4 separate regions of the Homo sapiens genome follow, and all the other regions are linked to region 2. Evidence: fine-mapped expression QTL. A gene starts in region 2. Each other region holds a variant in brackets. All regions are shown on one strand. Distances are between the middles of the regions. Region 1 overlaps SIRPG (signal regulatory protein gamma). Region 2 holds the start of SIRPG (signal regulatory protein gamma). Region 3 overlaps SIRPG (signal regulatory protein gamma). Region 4 overlaps LOC124904858 (a long non-coding RNA gene).

Evidence for each region.
Region 1: its variant is fine-mapped to the expression of SIRPG in whole blood (TOPMed, PIP above 0.99).
Region 3: its variant is fine-mapped to the expression of SIRPG in whole blood (TOPMed, PIP above 0.99).
Region 4: its variant is fine-mapped to the expression of SIRPG in whole blood (TOPMed, PIP above 0.99).

The regions. Positions count from the first base shown.
Region 1 is chr20:1,634,422-1,639,893 of GRCh38, forward strand. SIRPG (signal regulatory protein gamma) reads right to left here. Exons shown (of 6, transcript NM_018556.4): 3 at 1,767-2,084; 4 at 846-1,178. SIRPG-AS1 (SIRPG antisense RNA 1) reads left to right here. Exons shown (of 3, transcript NR_110090.1): 2 at 2,785-2,929. Among named protein-coding and RNA genes, the nearest start is that of SIRPG-AS1, 3.6 kb to the left of the region's middle. RefSeq lists an enhancer at 669-1,494. The variant G/T (reference allele first, on the strand shown) is at 2,096.
Region 2 is chr20:1,655,263-1,660,734 of GRCh38, forward strand. SIRPG (signal regulatory protein gamma) reads right to left here and starts at 2,517. Exons shown (of 6, transcript NM_018556.4): 1 at 2,380-2,517. The coding sequence starts at 2,452.
Region 3 is chr20:1,626,776-1,632,247 of GRCh38, forward strand. SIRPG (signal regulatory protein gamma) reads right to left here. Exons shown (of 6, transcript NM_018556.4): 5 at 3,447-3,531; 6 at 2,377-2,861. The coding sequence ends at 3,449. Among named protein-coding and RNA genes, the nearest start is that of SIRPG-AS1, 4.0 kb to the right of the region's middle. The variant C/T (reference allele first, on the strand shown) is at 2,780.
Region 4 is chr20:1,728,634-1,734,105 of GRCh38, forward strand. It overlaps LOC124904858 (a long non-coding RNA gene), which reads right to left. Exons shown (of 3, transcript XR_007067498.1): 3 at 4,543-4,593. Among named protein-coding and RNA genes, the nearest start is that of SIRPG, 74 kb to the left of the region's middle. The variant C/A (reference allele first, on the strand shown) is at 2,904.

The sequences.
Region 1 (5,472 bases), 21 kb before region 2:
TGGTCTCGATCTCCTGACCTCGTGATCCGCCCGCCTCGGCCTCCCAAAGTGCTGGGATTACAGGCGTGAGCCGCCAGGCCTGGTACAGTTTTAAACTACATTTGTCTTTCTGAAACATACACAGCAGATGTCAGGGTGTACTGGGATGAGGTCATAAATGAGGATGGAAAAGTTTGGATGAAACAGAAACAAAGCAGAGGTTAGAAAAAGTAGGGAGCACAAGGGTGGGCTGATGAGAAACGGGCACAACAACTCTCAAGGAATAAGGGAAGGCAAAGGACTCTATGAGAAGATGGTTCCCCCTGCCTGCCTCTTTGCTCCTTAAATATATATTTATGTACGCCAGGCGCGGTGGCTCACGCCTGTAATCCCAGCACTTTGGGAGGCTGAGGCGGGCGGATCACGAGGTCAGGAGATCGAGACCATCCTGGCTAACACGGTGAAACCCCATCTCTACTAAAAATACAAAAAATTAGTCGGGCGTGGTGGCGGGCGCCTGTAGTCCCAGCTACTCGGGAGGCTGAGACAGGAGAATGGCGTGAACCCGGGAGGCGGAGCTTGCGGTGAGCAGAGATCGCGCCACTGCACTCCAGTCTGGGCGACAGAGCCAGACTCCGTCTCAAAAAAAAAAAAAATTAAACATATATTTATGTCAAAAGTTCTATTAACTTGTGCATCAAATTCTTACTAGTCATGACTCTTCGCATGTGGGATTTGGGGGGATGGAGCTGACATTAAAATTTTACTTTGTATTTATAGACTTCTAGCTTATTTTACAGCAAGTGTGGATATTACTTTTAAAATGAGAGAAAAAGACAAAATTTAAAAATTTTGAGTAACCTCACCAGGGGTAGCATCTGAGCTCTGGTCCTTCTGGTGGACTGTGACCTCTAGGGCAAGGCGTTTGCTGACCGCCAGCTGCCCATCATGCTTCACCTGGCAGGTGAGGACCACATCATCCCTTTGGTCAGATATGTTCACCAGGAACCAGCTTGTCCAGTTGTAGGTACCATCCTTGTTCTCTGTAAGGGTCGAGGCTGTTTCTCTCTGGCACACGTTTCCATTCTCCGACCAGGTCAGCTGTAGGCTCTGGGGGTAGAACTTCCTCACCTGGCAGGTGACGTTTACCTGGTTCCCCACCCTCATGGGCTGTTGAGTAACCTCCAAGGTGGGTGGAACTGAAACAGCACAGGGTAGAAGCTCTGATCTTCTGGCACAGACAGATCACAGGGAGGGCTCCATAACTTAACTCCCACTACCACGGTGAGGGCATCACCAGGACAGTGCTAGGCAGGCAGCAGATGCTAAGACATTGAGGGCGCTCTTTGCATATGAATGAAATTACCAAGCACAGTGCCTGGTGCACAGTAGGTGCTCAAGGACTGGTAGCTCCTACTAGGCTAAGAATGAGTGAAATCTACAAGCACAACCCCTGGCATGCAGTTGGAATGTAAGAACTGTAGCAAAATCAGTGAAATCGCCGAGCACATAGGGACTTGGCTCATAGTAGGTACTCACTAATAGTAGTTGTTCTTGGTGAGATAAATGAAACTCTCTAGCGCAGAGCTTGGCACGTGATTGCTGGTCCCCTGACCGCTGCCAATAAAATGATAGTAAGTGACCAGCACACCTAGGTGCATGGCGGGCGGGCAGTATAGTCAGGGATTAGATTACAGGCCATTCAACCTCTGGAGCAACAGCCTGGGGAGAGGGGAGTGGGCTTGACAGCCAGGTGTGGGCTTGGGCTGGGTGTGAGGGTCCTCTACCTCGGATGGCCTCAGACAAGTTGGCAGTCCCACGAAGAGGGTCCCCCTGCAAGGTGACATGGGCCACCTCGCAGATGACCTGAGAGCGAACGTCCCAGGGGTCCAGTACCACCCTGGCTGTGCTGCGGATGCTGTAGGCCACACTCTGTCCTGTGGGGTCCACGTTGGTCTGGAAGTCTGAGAGCTCATTCCCATTTTTGAACCATTTCAGGGTGATGTCTCTGGGAGAGAAGCCATGGGACTCACAGGTGAAACTCACTGTATGCTCAGGTGTGGTCCTCGCCGCAGGGCCCAATACCACGGGGGCAGAGGGTTTGGCTACAAAAGGG[G/T]CATCGATAAACAGGAGACATGACTGAGATGACAATCACTAACGATGAGTGTGTGACACTGTTAAGAACCTTCAGATACATTAATTTTAATCCTTCTAATAATGTGGAGAGGATGGTGTTCTTATTCTCATTTTACAGAGCAGGATGCAAAGGTTGGAAGAGGTGACGACCAGCCCCAGGTCAGACAGTGTAGGGAAAGGTCCCAGAGGGAAGTCCAGGTCTGAGTTCAAAGTCCTCCTCTCCACATAGGGTGACTTCCACCAATCTGGGCACAGGAACAAAGTTACTGATTGTTCTCCCTCTGTGTATTAACTGGTGCTAGCCTGTTTCCCCAGGAGAGCTCACCAACCTCAGAGAGGGTGTTTACAGAAGCCAAAGTAGGGAACAATGGCAAAGTGGCGCCACCATGAGACCTGCAACCAGGCTGCTCAGCCCATGAGAGGGGTGGCCTGGAACATGCAGCCCCTCATCTGCAAAGTGGGACAGCAGCATTTTCCCTTCCCAGGGGTGCAACAAGGATTAAATGGGGCCATGGAAGAAGTTTTGCTTTGGATCAAAGTCAGAAGATGCTTCATAAAAATAAACACAGATCTGTCTTTAATCCAGACTTGACATATACCTAGAGCTCTCTCTCTTTGTGTATTTATGAATTTATTCCATATTTTTCATTCTTTTCACAAATATTCCAGTACAGTTTTTGAAAGAAAATGAAGTAGTTAAGGCTAAAGCTTTAACATGGAGTCAAGCGTTTGTAAGAGCATTGCACTCACACCTGCTAAAGGTCAAGCCACAGGATGTTGCTGTAGACCTGGATAACAATGGACTGAAGTCAAGGTACATGGGATTTTGATTTCTCTCATCCTGGAGTGTCCTAATTAAGTAACCAATTCATACGAGTTTGCAGTTTAGCATTTCTGCCAGGCAATGAACTGTTTTCAAAAACAACATTTTGTGAAAGTCCCCAGTACAAAACTTTTCCTGCATTGCCCTATGGGACACTGTTCAGGACTACCATGACTCAGGGTTCCCAAATTGCAACTCTTTATTTCCCAGATAAATGCTATTTCCTTTGGCCTTCCTATCAATCATTATTTTTTTTAGTTAGCAGGTCTAATCTGTGCCAAGTCCCAAATTTGAAAAGAGGGAAGGTTTCTTGGAATCTAGGTCTTCAGTTGGGCCAGGTTGGGTCCAAAAACAATGATCACTGAGTACTAAGAAAGCCAAAGGTGGGTGATTTCTTCATCGTTAATTCATTACAAGAGACAAAGATCTAGGCCACCCCAACAGGCAGAAATCTATCCTGGGTCCTGAAAGCACACAAACTGGAGAATCAGAAAAATGAGGGTAGTTTCTCCCTGTAGATGAGTCCTAAACGTGTCTCCAAATTGCTAATTATTACCCTGCACCTCCTATAGCAGTCATCAGGAAACACATATTAGGCATACTTGCATTTGTAAATATTAACTTGCTCCCTACCACATGCAAACATTTTATGGGCACAGTAAGAAGGGTGTCACTTGAAGAAGTCAAGTCATCAAGACACCAGCAGCATTGGGCATCCCTAGAGGGCTGAGAGGCTGTAACCAGTTGCCATTTATTGAGGGCTTCTTGGGAGCCTGATGCTGGCTGCTCCCTCTGTACCTCTCAGCTCTTTAATCCTCCCTTTATTGCCTTGAGGGGGTCCTCGTGTGAGTCCCTTATAGGACCAGGGTCTGAGGGGACCCCAGCTAGCAAAGGGCCAAAAGTGGATAAAAAACCCACCCTGGTAAGGTGAGGGAGGATGAAGGCAAGCACGGAGCCTGGTATGCAGCAGGTGCTTAATAAATGAGCCCTATGGCTGTTATCAAGAGGTTTGGTCATTACTACTTCTGAATCTACACACTTATTCTTTAGGCAGCAGAACATAGAGGAGTAGAAACACCAAGAAAAGGCTCAAATCCTGCTCCCTGCAGCTCATGAAAAACTCAAATGATAATAAAAGCAAAACCACCAAGTCTGGACAACTGGCTTTCAAAAAAAAATAAGATCATAGGTAAAGCTGGAAGCATTTTGGAAGGAGGAGGGAACAGAGTCCTCTGTGACATCTTTTTATTATTATTATTTTACTTTAAGTTCTGGGATACAAGTGCAGAATATGCAGGTTTGTTTTATAGGTTATGTTTGCCATGGTGGTTTGCTGCACTTATCAACCCATCATCTAGATTTTAAGCCCTGCATGCATTAGCTATTTGTCCTAATGCTCTCCTTCCCCTCACCCCCCCACCCCTTGACTGGCCCTGGTGTGTGTTGTTCCCCTCCCTGCGTCCATGTGTTCACATTGTGCAACTCCCACTTATGAGTGAGAACATGTGGTGTTTGCTTTTCTGTCCCTGTGTTAGTTTGCTGAGGATAATGGCTTCCAGCTTCATCCATGGCCCCGCAAAGGACATGAACTCATTCTTTTTTATGGCTGCATAGTATTCCATGGTGTATATGTACCACCTTTTCTTTGTCCAGTCTATCACTGATGGGCATTTGGGTTGGTTTCATGTCTTTGCTATTGTAAATAGTGCTGCAATAAACATACATGTGCATGTGTCCTCATAGTAGAATGATTTATATTCCTTTGGTTACATACCCAGTAATGGGATTGCTGGGTCAAATGGTATCTCTGGTTCTTGATCCTTAAGGAGTCACCACACTGTCTTCCACAATCGTTGAACTAATTTACATTCCCACCAAGAATGTAAAAACGCTCCTATTTTTCCACAGCATCACCAGCATCTATTGTTTCCTAACTTTTTAATAATCACCATTCTGACTGGCATGAGATGGTATCTCATTGTGGTTTTGATTTTCATTTCTCTAATGATCAGTGATGTTGAGCTTTTTTTCATATGTTTGTTGGCCACATAAATGTCTTCTTTTGAGAAGTGTGTGTTCATATACTTTGCATACTTTTTGATGGGGTTGTTTGTTTTTTTCTTGTGAATTTGTTTAAGTTCCTTGTAGATTCTGGATATTAGACCTTTGTCAGATGGGTAAATTGCAAAAATTTTCTCCCATTCTGTAGGTTGCCTGTTCACTCTCATGATAGTTTCTATTCCTGTGCAGAATCTCTTTAGTTTAATTAGATACCATTTGTCAACTTTCACTTTTGTTGCAATTGCTTTTGGCATTTTCGTCATGAAGTCTTTGCCCATGCCTATGCCTGAATGGTATTGCCTAGGTTTTCTTCTAGGGTTTTTATGGTTTTGGGTTTTACATTTAAGTCTTTAACCCATCTTCAGTTAATTTTTGTATAAGGTGTAAGGAAGGGGTCTGGTTTCAGTTTTCTGCATATGGCTAACCAGTTTTCCCAGTCCCATTTATTAAATAGGGAATCCTTTCCCCATTGC
Region 2 (5,472 bases):
TATGGAATCAACCTAGGTGTCTATCAGCAGATAAATGGAGAAAGAAAATGTAGCATATATGCACAATGAAATTCTAATCAGCCTTACAAAAAGGGAAACCCTGTCATTTGCAACAACATGGATGAACCTGGAGGACATTCTGCTAAGTGAAATAAGCCAGGCACGGAAAGACAAACACTGTATGATTTCACGTATGAAGAATCTAAAAAGTTGAGCTCATAGAAGTAGAAAGTAGAATGGTGTTTATCGGGGGCTAGAGAGGGGGTGTAGTTGGGGAGATATTAGTCAAAGGATACAAAATTTCAATTTAAATAAGAGAAATAAGTTCAAGATATCTATTGTACAATGTGGTGTTTATACTTAATAATATGAATTGTATTCTTGAAAACTGCTGAGAGAGCAGAGTTTACGAGTTCTCACAATAAAAAATGATAAATATGTAAGGTAATGCATATGTTTATTAGTTCAAATTAGTCATTCCACAATGTATGCATATTTCTTAATATGTTGTACATAAGTATACATACTTTTGTCAAATAAAAATAAAATAAAATATTTATTTTGTTAAAAATTTCACTGAAAATAGAAAGAGAACCAATGATTAAAAATGAAATCTCATCTGTGCATGTACATGTACATGCATAGGCACATGTGCATATATATGTGTATATAATGTGTATATATACACATTCACAAATATATATAAAAGTTTGGCTTATCATGTTAGTATATAAGGTTGTTTTGTGCATTAATTACAATTATGACAAATTTAAAAATCTCAGTAAAATATTTGGCACATAGAAACCATCCAACACATTTTTAACATTTTGGGAAAACATACATACACTAGTGTTTTACCTCTGATTGTTTCTGACTGGTGTGATGGGTGATTATTAATCTAATGTTTGCTTGCCTGCATTTTCTAATATTTCTACACATAGCATAACATGGTTAAAAGGGTGATAAACTCTGGAACTGGTCAACCTGGACTTGATCCCAACTGCTCCATGGACTGAAGTAGGGGACAATGAACAGGTTCCTGCCTCTGCCTCACTCCCCATTTGCAAATAGAGCACAAGAGTTATAGCTTCCACACAGGGATGCTGTGAGGATTAGTTGACTTAATACACACAAAATGCTAAGAAGTGCATCTGCCTTACAGGAAGAGAGCAATTGCTGAACTATTACTGCTGTCATTTGGGTACAGTGTATGTGTAAAAAAAATAATTTGAAAAGTGAGACCTTGCCCTCTAAGACCTGTGAGATGACATCACAGCAGGGCCCAGTGGGCAACTGAGAGGCTATTGTGCCCAGCCCTGTGACCGGGGGTCAGCTGCATGGTCTGAAAAAGGGGTGAAGACAGGCAGCCTGTCTGGGAGCTGTGAACAGGGCTCTCTCAGGTGGCACCAGGAAAGACCTCCCAATCCTGTCTGCCTGGGGGAAGGGAAAATAAATTCTCCAGAGGAAAGTCAAGATGACCAAGGGAGATGGTGGTGCCTGTTATGGGCTGAATGTGCCCCCAAAACGAATGGGTTGAAGCCCCAATCCCCAGCGCCTTAGAATTTGACCATATTTGGAGACAAGGTCTTTAACCCATTTATGCCCGAGGTTGCAATTTTTTTTTAATTTGAAAAATCAGACCTTGGCGATGCCCTTGAGCAGTAGGATATAAATAACTCCCGCAAGCTTAGTGATCCAATAACGGAGCACTAGGCATAAATGGGTGAAGCAATTTAGTTAAATGAGGTCACTGGCGGGGAGCCTTAATCCAATATGGCTGATGTTCTCATAAGAGAAAATGAGAATACAGACACACACAGAGGAAGACCATGTGTCAAGACACATGGAGGAGATGGCCTTCTACAAGCCAAGGAGAAAGACCTCAGTAGAAACTAACCCTGCTGGCATCTTGATTTTGCAATTCAGCCTCCAGAACTGAAAGAAAGAAAGTAAATGTCTATTGTTTTAGTTACTGAGTCTGTGGTGCTTTGTTGTGGAAGCCCTAAGAAAGGAATATAGGACGCTGTAAGCATGAAATGTGGAACTTCTTAAAGAGGAGGAGGGCACACAAAAATGGGTAGGAGGACTCAAGACAGGTAAGGATTTAATAATGATTCTTCTGTGTTTGTCAAATAAAATATTATAAAAATGTAACTAATTGTGATGGTGGCAGAAGCCTCACAAGGTTTGATGCCTCTGGTAGCCAGCTGCAGATCCACAGAGAAAGTGCTCAGCTCCCTGATCTTCTGCTCTTGGACAATGTCCAGTCCTTGACCTTCCTTGGCAGTGCTTGTGCTTATCTGAAATTGCTGCAAGTCCAGGGGCAAGGCTAGGTCCAGGAAGCAGGGAGAAAGGGTTCTAGCCCAATGCAATGCTCACCTGTAAGTCCCAGCAGTAGAGTCAGAAGCAGGAAAGGACCAGGAGGATGGGGCCAGGAGGCTGGGACAGGCATTTTGGAGACCTCAGAAGCCTGCTCTGTTCAAACGTCTGTTCTGGGGAGATGTCAGGCCCTGCTCTGAAGACAGAAGACAAGCCCTGCCTCCCTCAATTCAAGAGGAAGTGGCTATGATGGAATGCAACAGTAACCTGCTTCTAGATTGTGACTTACAAATCAGGCACAGTAGGCAGCTACAAAGCAAGGAGTTAATCGTGCTCCATTTTCAGGATAATCAGACAGGGTTAGCAGAAATAATGCTTCCTGCCTGCCTGGGACCTGTGCTCCCTCCTCGTGTCCCCAAACCCATTTTCAGGTCTTCTTGGTGATTTGCCATTTGAGGCTTTTAAGTCAAGAAAGATCTGTTGTTAGGTATTGTTTTCTAAAGTCTTTATTTCAAGACCCTAGGATGTGGTTGGCTTGTGGTCTTGTTCTGCACCAGCCTCAACCAAATGCCACTCCGCTGGACGTAGGAGAAGAGTTCACAGGACCTGCTCAACACTGGAGAGGAACCAGATCTTCTCCTGAAATGATTTTCTATTCCAAATTGCTATAATTGGCAACACTTAGCCCAAATTCAGTCTCTTGTGGACCTTAGCACTTTCATGTGCCTGCACCCAGCAGAAGGAATTATTTCTTGACTCCTTCCAGGAGAGAAACTGGGTTTGAGGTAATAAGCAACTGCTTTGTGGAGTGAGGTGGGGATTGTGGGTTATGGAAAGGGGATAGGGTTATCATGAGGGAAGATTATGGTGGGCAGGTTCCTGGGGCCGTCGCATCAATTTCAATACCCTTTCTTCTACACACAGAGCACCTATTTCATTCATCACTGAGTTCGGATGGGAAATGAGGAAAGAGGAAAAATCCATGCTCCTGCCAAGAGTGTGTGCCAAGGAGTTGGGGAAGTCGCTGGGCCCTCCTATGCTCAGTTTCAATCTCCTAAACTGGGAATAGTAAGTCTTTTTGTGCAGTGTTTTAGTGACGATTAAAGAGGTAATGAGCATATCATGCCTGAAACCCAGTAGGTCATTATTGATACTCACGGTGCCAGGTGAAGTGCGGGAACTCAAATGTTGCTTTTGAATGGATCCCTCCTGCATGCTGAGTTGCCCACCAGTGGCTTTCTCCCAGCAACCCAGGCCTCCTGAGACCCAGCTTATATAGTGTATTTGGACTCTCGCTGCCACCCTGAAATCAGTTTCTCCCTCTGGATTCTCTAAATCCCGCTCCTTGTTCAACCATAGATTAATTCCTCCTCTTACAATTTCCAGCTGTGTGATTTTCAAAAAGACACTACTTCTCTGAGCCTTGGTTTGATTGTATGTAAATAAATGTTAGAATATGCACCTTGTAGAGCTATGGTAGGAATAATATAAGCCATACTGAATGCTTGACTCATAATTAATTATAAGCAAAAAAACATGGCTATAATTATTTTCTGTGTACAGGAAGAGTCCACTGGTTCTCTGCCACCGTTGTGCCTTAGAAAAGCCACCTTGTTAAAAGAAATGATTTCTCTTCCAGCATCTATGACTAAGAAAGACCTGTCCAGAATCCTTCATCTCACATGTGGGTTTTAGGTTCTTAATCTGTCATGAATAATTGTCAAATCAAATTGTAAATGTTATCATGTTTTAATTGAAAGTCCTGTTTTAATGTGGCAGATGTACACAGGGTGAAATCTTCCCCTCCTTCTCCACACCCACAGTAGTGAAAACACAAAATGAAAAGAATATATGAATCAATGTCTAATTACACTTGAATACAAGCAATTGGCTTCTATATGACATGAAGGAATTATAACAGCTATCATTTATTGAGAGTTTCCTGTGCTCCAGATATGGTGCCAAGCATTTTTCTATTGGTAATGTCATTAAATCATTGCTCTGACCCCATGAGGTAAGCTCAACCATTAACCTCCTTTCACAGGTGAGAAAACCCGAGGCACATGGAGAGTAATGAATTTGCTCAAGATCACCCGGCTTTTAGAACTGGAACATAGGCTGCCACACTCCACAGCCTTCACTTTTAATGGTTGTACTATGATACCTCTTGCAGGAAGGGAGAGACATCCCTCAGGAAGAAAGCAGAGAAGAAGCTATAGCCTCAATTAGGAGCAGCCCTCATAGTGAGGCTGGGGCAGGTGCCATGCTCCACGAGGCCCTGACAACCCATGATCACATGGGGAATTATTCCTGGGAAGACGGAAGTGCAAGCAAGAATCACCAAAGATTTGAGGAACAGCACTGCAGCTAACAAATTCAAGAAAAACAATAACTCAAAAACAAATAGCAATCAAAAGAACTTCACACCTGAGCAAATATGAAAAAACAAAATGTGTAAAGTTCTTTAAAGTTAGTATACTTAATGATCTTATAAGGAAAACAAAAGAGAAGTAAATTCATAAACCAACATCAGGCATGTAATAATATGAAACAGAAATAGGCGGGCATGAGGTAACAACAACCATCTTGAAAAAATACCAAAACACAGACTTTGGAAATGAAAACATAATCAGTGCTGAAATTTTTTAAAAAAACTTAATAGGTTGACTAGCTGACTATACATAAATAAGTATAATAGTAAGTTAGTAAGCTGGGTGATTATGTAGGGGAAATTTCCTGTGGTACAGCACAGAGACACACCCAAACAAAGTAATGTGGATAGGTAAAAATATACCACAATATTGTGGTATATCTTTTCCTATTGCTCTATTTTTACCTATCCACATTACTACATTACTTTGAGAGGTGTGAGTCATAAAGTATTATGTCTCCAAAAATAAGAATTGGGCGTATATGACTCAAAAATGCATAGTATAGTGTCAGGAAGATGGCAGAATCTGTGCTTAGAGCAGCAAGTGCCTTCCTGTGAACTTCAATCCTTCAGTAAAGATCAACTAAGTACACAGATGCTTACAATTTTTGTGGAAATCACGTGGAGAATTGAAATTTAAATTTAGGTGACTTGGGGAAGCATAGATAAAATCTGAATGTTTGAGAGGACCAGGAACCTGGGAGTCCATGAGCCAAAATTCT
Region 3 (5,472 bases), 28 kb before region 2:
AGTGGAGACAGTTTGACTGCTCTGGGCCTGCTCTCTGTCCCAGGGGCACTCACTTCATGCCAGGGTTCCCTTGGCCCTTCCTCAGTTGACAGCCCTGATCCACAGGGCCCTGTAGCTAAGGACTGAGTTTGGATTTTCAGAGACTGTAATTCTGGGTGTGGAAAGTTTGAGGTCTTGTTACTGTAGCAGCCTTTAAGGATGGAACCAAAACTCCTGGATGTCCCCTGCAAAAAGTCCCTAGGGCCAACATCAAGTAACAAGCTGAGCAAATAAGAAATGGCAACTCTTCTCAGGTCTGTCAGAGAAATGAGGTCACAGAGCAGACCATTGTCTCCAAAACTGGAAGTTAGACAAAATGATATAGAGAATTACAACTTCCTGAAGCCAAAACCTCCATGGGAACCAGTGCCAGGGTAGGAAAACCTGCACTGTAATTGAAGAATTGCTAGAGGCTTGGTGTGGGCCAGTCTGAGGAACAGATTCCAGCAGGACCCAATCGCAGGGAACTCCAACACTGTTGTGAGATTTACCTCCAGGAGCTTGATTAGGTGCTCAGAGTGAATATGAGAGAAACATTCACTTGTGCTTCCTGGGGGGTGTGGAGGGGAAAGCGAATCATTCTGAACTACACCAGAGCATTCTTTCTTCTTACCAAGCCCAGCTCTCAGGAGAAACTATTTTACCAGTGCCTAATCTGCTGGGCTTTGATCAGAGCCTAACCTACCTGGGGAAGGCAAGCACCCAACTCCAGCCCCCTCTGGCCATCCTGTCCCACCATAGGGGAAAAAACTGAGAGGCACTTGTGAAGTCCACAGGCCAGGGGCACAGGCTCACATAAGACTGCAACCTCATGTAACTGGTGATGAGCCCATGTGACATTTTTGGGAAACAAATAATTGAAAGAGAGATTGGACAACCACAGTGAAAATGCAGTGAATAAATGAGCAGTGAAAATGCTGGAGATAAAGTTCAAATTGTATGTCAGTGGAGTTATAGAAGCATGAATAGCTGGTGAGGCAACGTAGACCCTGGTAGTGTTTGAAAAACTTCAGATAGGCAGCCCGCAGGACTTAGAGAAGGTGAATTTAACAGATACGGGATGGGGTACTGACAAATAGGGCGAAGGTGTCCCTGAGGATGTGACAACAGCAAAAATCTTCACGTGAAAGGAACTTTTGCAGAGATTTCACGACACTGAAAGTGCAAATGATAAGGTGCTGGAAACAAATCCAAACTTAGAGAGGAAGGTGATAAAACACCCAGATAGAAAGGATGTTTGCTCCATATCCGAAGTGTACAAGAAGGAGGTAAGCACTCTTCCAACTACTCTTGAAACATTTTTACAAAGAAATAAAATACTGAAACACTTGATGTTTCCAATGTTTTGAATTACAGGGTACTAATAAATATTCATTTATTATTTTTTATTGCCTTCTACATTTGTAACTGACACTATGAGAGTTTCCTATATTTTGACAAAAAATTGTAAAGGTCACAATATGATCATTGTTTTTCTGATTGGATGTGGAGATTGCTTTCCTGGGTTTCCGGCTGCACAGTCATTCTTGCAATCTTGCACTGCTGTGAAAAGCGAGGGCTGCCTGTATTCGTTATAATGCTTATGGTAATAAATGCTAAATAAAAATTAATCAAGATAAGAGAAATTAGAATGCCAGGGTAGACAGGAGAATTGATATTATGTACAGGGTGGTTTGCCAAAGGTGCCTTTAATAAAGTGACATTGAGCAGAGGCTTGAAGGAGGGATGAAGGGAGCCATGCAGCTGTGTTGGGGAAGAAGCAGAGGAGTGATACAATTTGACTTTTCCAAAAATCCCTGTAGCTGAAAAATGAAAGCCAACAGAGGCTACAGAAGTGTTCCCGGAAGAGATGATGCTGGCCGGGACAGGGAGGGGTGATGGAGGTGAGAAGTGTGCAGGTTAGGGATGTAACTCAGTGCTCTCCTGCAGCAGGCTTGGACTGGCCCCTGAAAGCCAACCGTTAAGTTTCAGGAATTTTGCAATCCAGTTGTTAAACTTCTGGTAGCTTGAAACTGGCCATGTTGGGGGTGATTATACCACAGAAATTGTCAAGTACAACAAATCAGCTTTTTTTTTCCTTTAAGAGAGTCCATTTTTAAACACTTACCATCTCACGAGTGGACATAAGTATTTTGAAGGCAGAATTGAATATGGGGTGTAAAGAGACATCAGGGAGGATTCGGGAGTCAAGGAGGCTTTTGGACTGCGGCAGCATTTCCGCCATGAGCAGCAGGGCGGGGAAGCCTGCAGGATGCTAGAACTAGTGTTCCCATCACAGAGAGAGCAGGGAGAGCTTCTTTGTTTCTGAGTGTGAGGAGTAGGACCCTTAGACAAAGAGGAAGGATAATCTTTTTATTTTCTTAAAACCACTTTGGGAGTGCATTTGTATTCAAGAGGCAATAGAGAACCTCAACAAGGCTGGGGAGTTGGGATAGGCAGGAATCTGGAAGGCAGGATAACTCTTGAGAACCTGGAGAGCGTCTGTGGTTTACGGTCAGTCTCAAGGCGATGGATGGGAGTCCTGGTGTGTTTAGATTTGGCATGTTTCTCGCCTTCTAGGGAGGTGCCGTTAAGTCAGTGCCCAGAGCCCAATCCCATGGCACCTGCTCAGGACCATGAATGAAGACCTTGCTCTGGGGCATCCAGGTCTGTGTGAAGGAGCAACAGGAGCCTGTGGGCAGGCAGATGTCTTGGGAGGGGAGATGTTTGGAGCCAAGTCTAGAGAAGCTTCTCACTGGCT[C/T]ATTCTCTCAAGCTGAGCCTCTCAGGAAAGGAAGGAGGCAGCAGAGATGAGGGTCCCACGTGGCAGGGGAGGAAGGAAGGAGCTGTAGGAAAACACATCCACACTTAGTCATCTGCTCATCTTTCAAGACATGTTTCCTGAGAGTCTGTTATGTTCTCGGGGCTGGTCTCCTGGGATACCTGTCACTGGTGGACAGGCAGTCCTGATAGAACTCTGCCTGCTCAGCCATCCTGCCAAGTCCTGATGCCCTTTCCAATATTCCTTCCACTCAGACACACAGAGGGTCAGAGCACAAACAGCCTTCAGGGCTTCCCATTTGGGTTTCTCAACATTAGTTTACAATGTGGATTTCTCTGACCCCATGGAGTCCCAGCATTCAAATAATCTACAGATAGCCTGCAAGGGACCACCCACTCATCACTGCCTCCATGAAACTCCTAGGGCACTGTGGACATCTTTGAACACATTTCAAGCATCCCACATTGTACACCACCCACATAATTTCTGTGGGTTGGGAGCCTTTTAAAGGGTTCCCCAAGACTTCCGAGGGTGCGGAGGGAGCTTAACTCCACGGACCCTGGTGCTGCATGGCATGTGGGCTGGGCCTTCCTGTTGGCCTTGCCCTTCTGAGACAGCCCTTGGTCTGTCCTCCCTTCCTTGTACTTACAGTCAGGTCTTCTGCTTCCAGGGGACGTAGATGGGGCCCAGGAGGACAGCTATGAGGAGCAGCGCAGTAAGGGATGATGCCGGGCCTGGAAATCAGGGAAGACGAGGGGCTATGAGAGAGACCACTTGGGAGGCCATTGTAGGGGCCTCCACTTACCCCATCTGAGGCTGCCTGGGCCCATCTATGCCCCACCTTTGAACCTGCATCCTGCCCAGGCTATCTTCACTCCAGCACAAGGCAGAAGCCACAGAAAGAGGCTCCCCATTCTCACTCATCCTGTCCCAGGTTGCCAGCTTATTCTCCTGGAGGGAAGAGGTGGAGGGGGTGTGTACTCAGGTATTCATACATGTGGCAACGGGGTTCCTCACTTGACCCTCACAAGCCTATGGGAGCAGGGATTGTCATTCCATTCTGCTAGGGAAACTGAGGCCCATGGATTTTAGGGAGGGTCACAAGGTTACTTGCATTCAAACCTAAAGAAGCTCATCACTAGTGTTCCTTAGGTTGATCCCTGAGACCATGTCCTTTGGAACAAAACAAGTCCAAATTCCTAGGGACATTTTAATGACTATAAAAGGGTAGGCAGGTGGCTTGAGGATGGCTTCACAATGAGAGTTGCAGGTTCCCTGCTTAGCCCCAGAAGTAAGGGGAGGACTCCGTGTTCTCAGAACTTGGAGGAGCCATGGAACACTGGACATAATGAAACCTTCCGGCTAGAAAACATCCTGGTGAGTCACGGAAATGGGTCTCATGCTTGGGAGGGCCTCAGATGTCACCTAGGCCACCTCCACCCCAGTGCAGGTGTCATCTGAAATCTTTCTGTTAGTTGGGCACACTCAGTTACGGGGAAGCACATGTTTGGACGCTGCATTTTTAACATGAGCAGTTCAGGCTTTTAAAATCAACATTTTTAACGCGAGCAGTTTGGGCCATTAAAGATATTACAGTATATTTTAAATAAATAAAATGGTGCTGGTGGGTCCTTAAGGAAGAAATGGAGAACTCAGCATCTGTGGCTGCTGGGGTGTTGGAGGCCGGCAGTTCTCAGCTGGGTGGCTCTCTGGGACTTCTTCTCCCTTGAGGAAAGCTGCACTGCCCAATTCCAAGTTCACTCCTCCTTCTAGGGGACAGCCCACAAGAAAGATTGGCTGAATTGAAAATAGGAAGGCCACGCTTCTCTCCTCAATTAAAAAACACTACATGACGCTCTCAGCCCTTGGGATCCTCCGCAGGAGCAGCTGGGTCTTTGTTCTACCTGCACTGTAGCTCAGCACCTCGCTCCTCCTACAGTCCTGCCTCCCCATTTCCTGAGGCATGCTGACCCTACAGCTCTTCAGGATGCTTCCTGCATTCCTGTATCCATCTCTAGTCTGCCTTACAGAGAAACTGACCTTGGTAAGTTGTCTGTAAAGCTTACTCTAAAATATAAATTTGAAGCCTGAATACTCATCAGCTCGCAATGAGGACCTCAGGGCTGGCAGTGAGTGGGGCTGGGCACCATGGCTGGGATGCAATTGATAAAACTTTCACTGGCAGTAAGCTGGGATGGCGTAACCACAGGCAGGAAATTCCTTGGCATCAGGCTTTTGAAACAAATTGGGAAATGGTAGTTATAAGGACTAACTTGTTCCATGGCTATCACTGGGCATATTTTTTTTGGGGAAATATGCTGAGAAGCTACGAGTGATTGATTATGAGTTAAGGTTCAGCGTGAAAGCAAGAGGACTTCTTGGCAGCACTGCACTTTCTTATCTCTTGTGGCTAGAGGGCAGAAAGAATAGAGGGTTGGGCCCTGGACATCATTAAAAGAGTAGCAGAATCACAGAGGAGGATGAATCTCAGCTTCAACGGTTGCTATGCTGGGGTAGGGCCCTGATGGGGAAGTTGTGGGACCCTGAGATGTGGGAGTGGACATTTGGGTCAAAGCACTCAAAGATCTTCGGTTGACTTAAGAGTTGCTGGGTACAATTGCAGCAGCATAGCTACTTATCTGTATAAAATATCCTCCCCAAATCAAATAAAAAAT
Region 4 (5,472 bases), 73 kb after region 2:
CCTCTACCCACCCAGTGAAAGTGTCTACCCAGACCAAAAGGTATTTTAGTTTCCTGACTTGGGGCATGTGAGTAAAGTCAATTTTCCAGTCCTGGGCAGGGGCAAATCCCCAAGCTTGATGTGTAGGGAAGGGAGGGAGCCTGAACAATCCATGAGGACTAGTAGAATAGCCAATGGAACGCTGAGAAGTGATTTCCTTGAGGATAGATTTCCACAATGGAAAGGAAATAAGAGGTTCTAAGAGGTGGGATAGCAGCTTGCAACCTACAAGGAAGACGTTATGAAATGACGACAGAATAGAATCGGCCTGTGAGGCTGAAAGGAGATATTTCCCTTGGTCTAAGAACAATTTGCCTTGTGTGGGAAGAGATTGATAGGTGGAAGTTTCAGTGGCGGAGTAGGTGGGAGTTACTGATGAGGAGAAAAACTGGCTGTGAAGGACTGAAGTTGGAACACTAGCTGCTTCTTTAGCTACCTTATCGGCATAAGTGTTGCCCTGAGTGATGGGATCTGATGCCTTTTGATGGCCTTTGCAGTGAATGACTCCAGCTTCCTTTGGAAGTAAAGTGGTCTTGAGAAGAGTTTTTATTAAAGAGGCATTAATGATGGAGGACCCTTACGTAGTGAGGAAACCTCTTTCTGCCCATATAATAGCATGGTGGTGCAGGATATGGAAGGCATATTTAGAGTCAGTATAAACATTGACATGTACTCCTTTTGCAAGAGTGAGGGCCTGAGTTAAGGCAATGAGTTTGGCTTGCTGAGAGGTAGTGGAGGGGGCAGAGCAGGAGCCTCAATGATAGATGTGGAAGATACTATAGCAAAGCCTGCCTTTGCTGGTGAGTGGCGATTAGGCCTGGTGGAACTGACATCAATAAACCAAGTGTGATCAGGGTGAAGAACAGGAAAGAAGAAAATATAGAGAAATGGAGTAAATGTCAGGTGGATCAGAGAGATACAGTCATGGGGGTCAGGTGTGGTATCTGGAATAATGTGGGAGCCAGTCTAAAACAGTGAGGTCAAGTAGTTTGGATAGGAAGGCTACAGGGCGTGGTCCTGGCTCTTGTGTAAGAATTTCAACCGCACAGCCCTGTACTTCGGCTGTGTGTAATGAAAAGGGTTGGGATGAGTTAAGGAGAGCTAGTGTGAGAGCAGCTTCTAGGGCTGTTTTTAAGGAACGGAAAGATGAGTGGTGAAAGGATTTAGGATCTATGGGGTCAGCTAGGTTTGTTTTTGTGAGTTTGTATAATGGTTTAGTCAGGATGGTAAAACTAGGTATCCAAAGGTGAAACTATCCAACCATGCCCAGGAAGGAAAGGAGTTGTTGTTTTGTAGAAGGGGTTGGGGTTTGAAAGTTTAGCTGGACATGCTCAGCAGGGAGAGCATGTGTGTTTTCATGAAGAATTATGCTGAGATAGGTAATGGATGAGGAAGAAATTTGGACTTGACTGAAGTAATGGGGGCTGTCCATGAAGCCTTGCAGTAGTATAGCCCAGGTAATTTGCTGAGCCTGATGAGTGTCAGGGTCAATCCAAGTGAAAGTGAAGAGAGGCTGGGCTGAAAGGTACAAAGGAATAGTAAAGAAAGCATGTTGGAGATCCAGAACAGAATAATGGGTTGCGGAGGGATGTATTGAGGATAGGAGAGTATCTGAGTTTGGCACCACGGGGTGGATAGGCAAGACAATTTGGTTGATAAGGTGCAGATCCTGAACTAACCTGTAAGACTTGTCCAGTTTTTGGACAGTTAAATGAGGGAATAGTAAGGGGAGTTTATAGGCTTTAAAAGGCCATGCTGTAACAGGAAAGTGATACCAGGGTTTAATCCTTTTAAAGCATGCTGTGGGATGGGATACTGGCATTGATCAGGTAAGGGTGATTAGGTTTTAATGGGATGGTAAGGGGTGCATGATCGGTCACCAAAGAGGGAGTAGAGGTGTCCCAAAATGGTGGATTAAGATGGGGAGATACAAGGGGAGGATGTGAAGGAGGCTTTGAACTGGGGAAAAGGGCGGCAATGAGGTGTGGCTGTAGCCTAGGAATAGTCAGGGAAGGAGATAATTTAGTTAAAATGTCTCAACCTAATAAGGGAGCTGGGCAGGTAGGGATAACTTAAAAGAAGTGCATAAAAACTGTTCTTCAAGTTGGCATCAGAGTTGGGGAGTTTTAAAGAGGTTTAGAAGCCTGGCCGTCAATACCCACAACAGTTATGGAGGCAAGGGAAACAGGCCCTTGAAAATAAGGTACTGTGGAGTGGGTAGCCTCCGTATTGATTAAGAAGGGGACGGACTTACCCTCCACTGTAAGAGTTACCCAAAGCATCTGTGATGGTCCAGGAGGCTTCCGAGGTGATTGGGCAATGTCAGTCTTCAGTCACTAAGCCAAGAAGATCTGGGAAGGAGTCAGTCAGAGAGCCTTGGGCCAGAGTTCCAGGGGCTCTGGGAGTGGCTGCCTGGTGAGTTGGACAGTCCGATTTCCAGTGAAGTCCCACACAGATGGGGCACAGCTTAGGAGGAATCCTGGGCTGCAGGCATTCCTTGGCCCAGTGGCCAGATTTCTGGCACTTAAAGCAAGATCCTGGGGGAGGAGGTCCTGAAGGAATGCCTGACCACTGTGGATTTAGGTGTTTTGAAGTTCTTGTGTATTGGAGATGTGGCTGGGGTTTCTCTCACAGTGGAGGCAAGTAATTGCAACTCTTTTCTATTATTGTACACCTTGAAGGCGAGGTTAATTAATTCCTTTTGTGGGGTTTGAGGGCCGGATTCTAATTTTTGAAGTTTTTTTTAATGTCAGGAGCTGACTGGGTGATAAAATGCATATTGAGAATAAGACGGCCTTCTGACCTTTCAGGGTCTAGCGTTGTAAAGCATCTCACGGTTGCTGCCAAACCAGCCATGAACTGGG[C/A]GGGGTTTTCATGTTTACTTTGGGTAGTTTCTTTAAGCTTTGTTCTTTAACAGTTCTTTAACAGCTTTGTAAGCTGCCTTTTTACACCCTTCAACTAGGCAGGAAATTATATAATCTTGCCTAGCTATACCTGGGGAATCTGCCTGATAGTTCCATTGGGGATCCTCTCGGGGAACTGCTCTAATGCCTTCCTGGAGGTCTGGCTCTTGAAGCCGGCAGTTATCAGCGTGAGATTGGGCTGGAGAAAAAACTCTTTCCCATTCATCTGGGGATAGGGTAGAAGTTAGGATGACATTTCAGTCACTCCAGGTTAAATTGTAGGACAGAGTTAGATATTGGAATTCCTGTATATATTTAGTGGGGTCTGATGAGAAAGAGCCTAAACACTGGCTGATCTGAGAGAGGTCTGATAGAGAAAAAGGCACATGTACCCTGACTATGCCTTCAGTTCCAGCCACCGCTCTAAGAGGAAATTGTTGGGCAGGTGGGGGAGGGCTAGTCTCAGAATGAAACTGTAAGCTGAACCAGGTGTGCACAGGGGAGGTGATAGAAGGATTATAGGGTGGAGGAGCAGAGGCCAAGGAAGAATCGGAGCCTGATTTAGCTTGGCGGGGAGCGACCTGAAGAGGAGCAGTCTGGGGAGGAGGGGAGAGGTCACATGGGTCAGTAGGAAAGGAAGATTGAAAAGACTCAGCGATGCTTGGGGTTGGGACTGAGGGAACAGGTGGGGGGGAAAGAAGGAGGATTTGGGGTGAGTCACATTGGGAACAGAGACTAGGGAGGGACCGATGTGTAAAAGAATGCCTGGATGTCAGGCACCTCAGACCATTTGCCCATTTTATGACAAGAATTATCTAGATCTTGTAGGATGGAGAAATTGAAAGTGCCGTTTTCTGGCTATTTGGAACCATCGTCGAGTTTGTTTTGGAGTCAAACAGCATTGCAGAAGAAAATAAGGTGTTTAGGTTTTAGGTCAGGTGTGAGCTGAAGAGGTTTTAAGTCTTTGAGAACACAGGCTAAGGGAGAAGAGGGAGGAATGGAGGGTGGATGGTTGCCCATAGTGAAGGAGGCAAGCCCAGAGAAAAGAGAGGGTAGAGACATGGAGAGAAGGGGTGGGGGGTATTTGTGCCCCAGCAAAGTGGTACTTGCCACTAAGGTGAAGGATCAAGGCAGGCGTCCCTGCGGTGATCAGACACCTCTGAAACGTGGGTGAATAATCAGGCAGGCATCCCGCAGTGATTAAACACCAAGGGAAGACTGTCTTCCCGAGCCTGTGACTGGTGCCGGAGTTTTGGGTTCATGGATAAAACGCATCTCCTCTGTCTCTACCAGAAAAGGAAAGGAACTGAAATTAAGGGAAGAGAGAGATTGAAGGGTGGCGCCAAGATTGAAAGGAGAAAGAGGTTAAGGGATAGTGAGAGAGGTTGGAGAAGAGAGTAAAAAGAGGCCACTCACCCGATTTAAAATTGGTGAGATGTTCCTTGGGCTGCTTGGTCTGAGGACCCGAGGTCATAGGTGGATCTTTCTCACAGAGCAAAGAGCAGGAGGACAGGGGATTGATCTCCCAAGGGAGGTCCCCCGATCAGAGTCATGGCACCAAATGTCACGTGCATCCATGTGAAGAGACCACTAAACAGTCTTTGTGTGAGCAATAAAGCTTTTTAATCACCTGGGTGCAGGCAGGCTGAGTCTGAAAAGAGAGTCAGCAAAGGGAGATAGGGGTGAGGCCATTTCATAGGATTTGGGTGGGTAGTGGAAAATTACAGTCAAAGGGTGTTTTTCTCTTGTGGGCAGGGGTGGGGGTCACAAGGTGCTCAGTGCGGGAGCTTCTGAGGCAGGAGAAGGAATTTCACAAGGTTAATCACCCAGTTAAGGTGGGGCAGGAATAAATCACAATGGTGGAGTGTCATCAATTAAGGCAGGCACCGGCCATTTTCACTTCTTTTGTGATTCTTCACTTGCTTCAGGCCATCTGGATGTATTCATGCAGGTCACAGGGGATATGATGGCTGAGCTTGGGCTGGAGGCCTGACAGAAAGCATAATGCTACCCTTAGATTACATAATGATTTAAAAACAATACACAGCAGGAAAAAGTAAAGGGTAATTAAATAAATTCTGGGTACATCCGTATTTTAATATAAATTGCACAAAAACCTTTTAATCTGAGGAATGCAATGCCCCTTTCAATTATCAGGCCCAGAGAGGCACTGGAATGAGAAAGCAGTCATGTCCCACTTCCCTCCTTCAGCTAAGTAACCATCTCTTGAGGCTGCTTGCCATGTGGACTCTAGACTGACTGATGCCCCAGGTAGATACAATTTAATGTAACAATGCCATATGTGGACACTATAAGTCATATTCTATAGTTAAATAACGTATAAAGGTTACTAATCAATGTTATTTTTGTAAAGCAATGAGAATTCCTGACAAAAACTTTTGTAATCATCCCCTCCCCTGGTTTGTCCTTTTTCCTTAAAAGCTCGAGTCTGTTCTTTATTCTCCAAAGTGACTTGGAGGTGTTTCCTGGGTTACAGTCTTCAAATTTGGCCCAAATAGACCTTCTACTT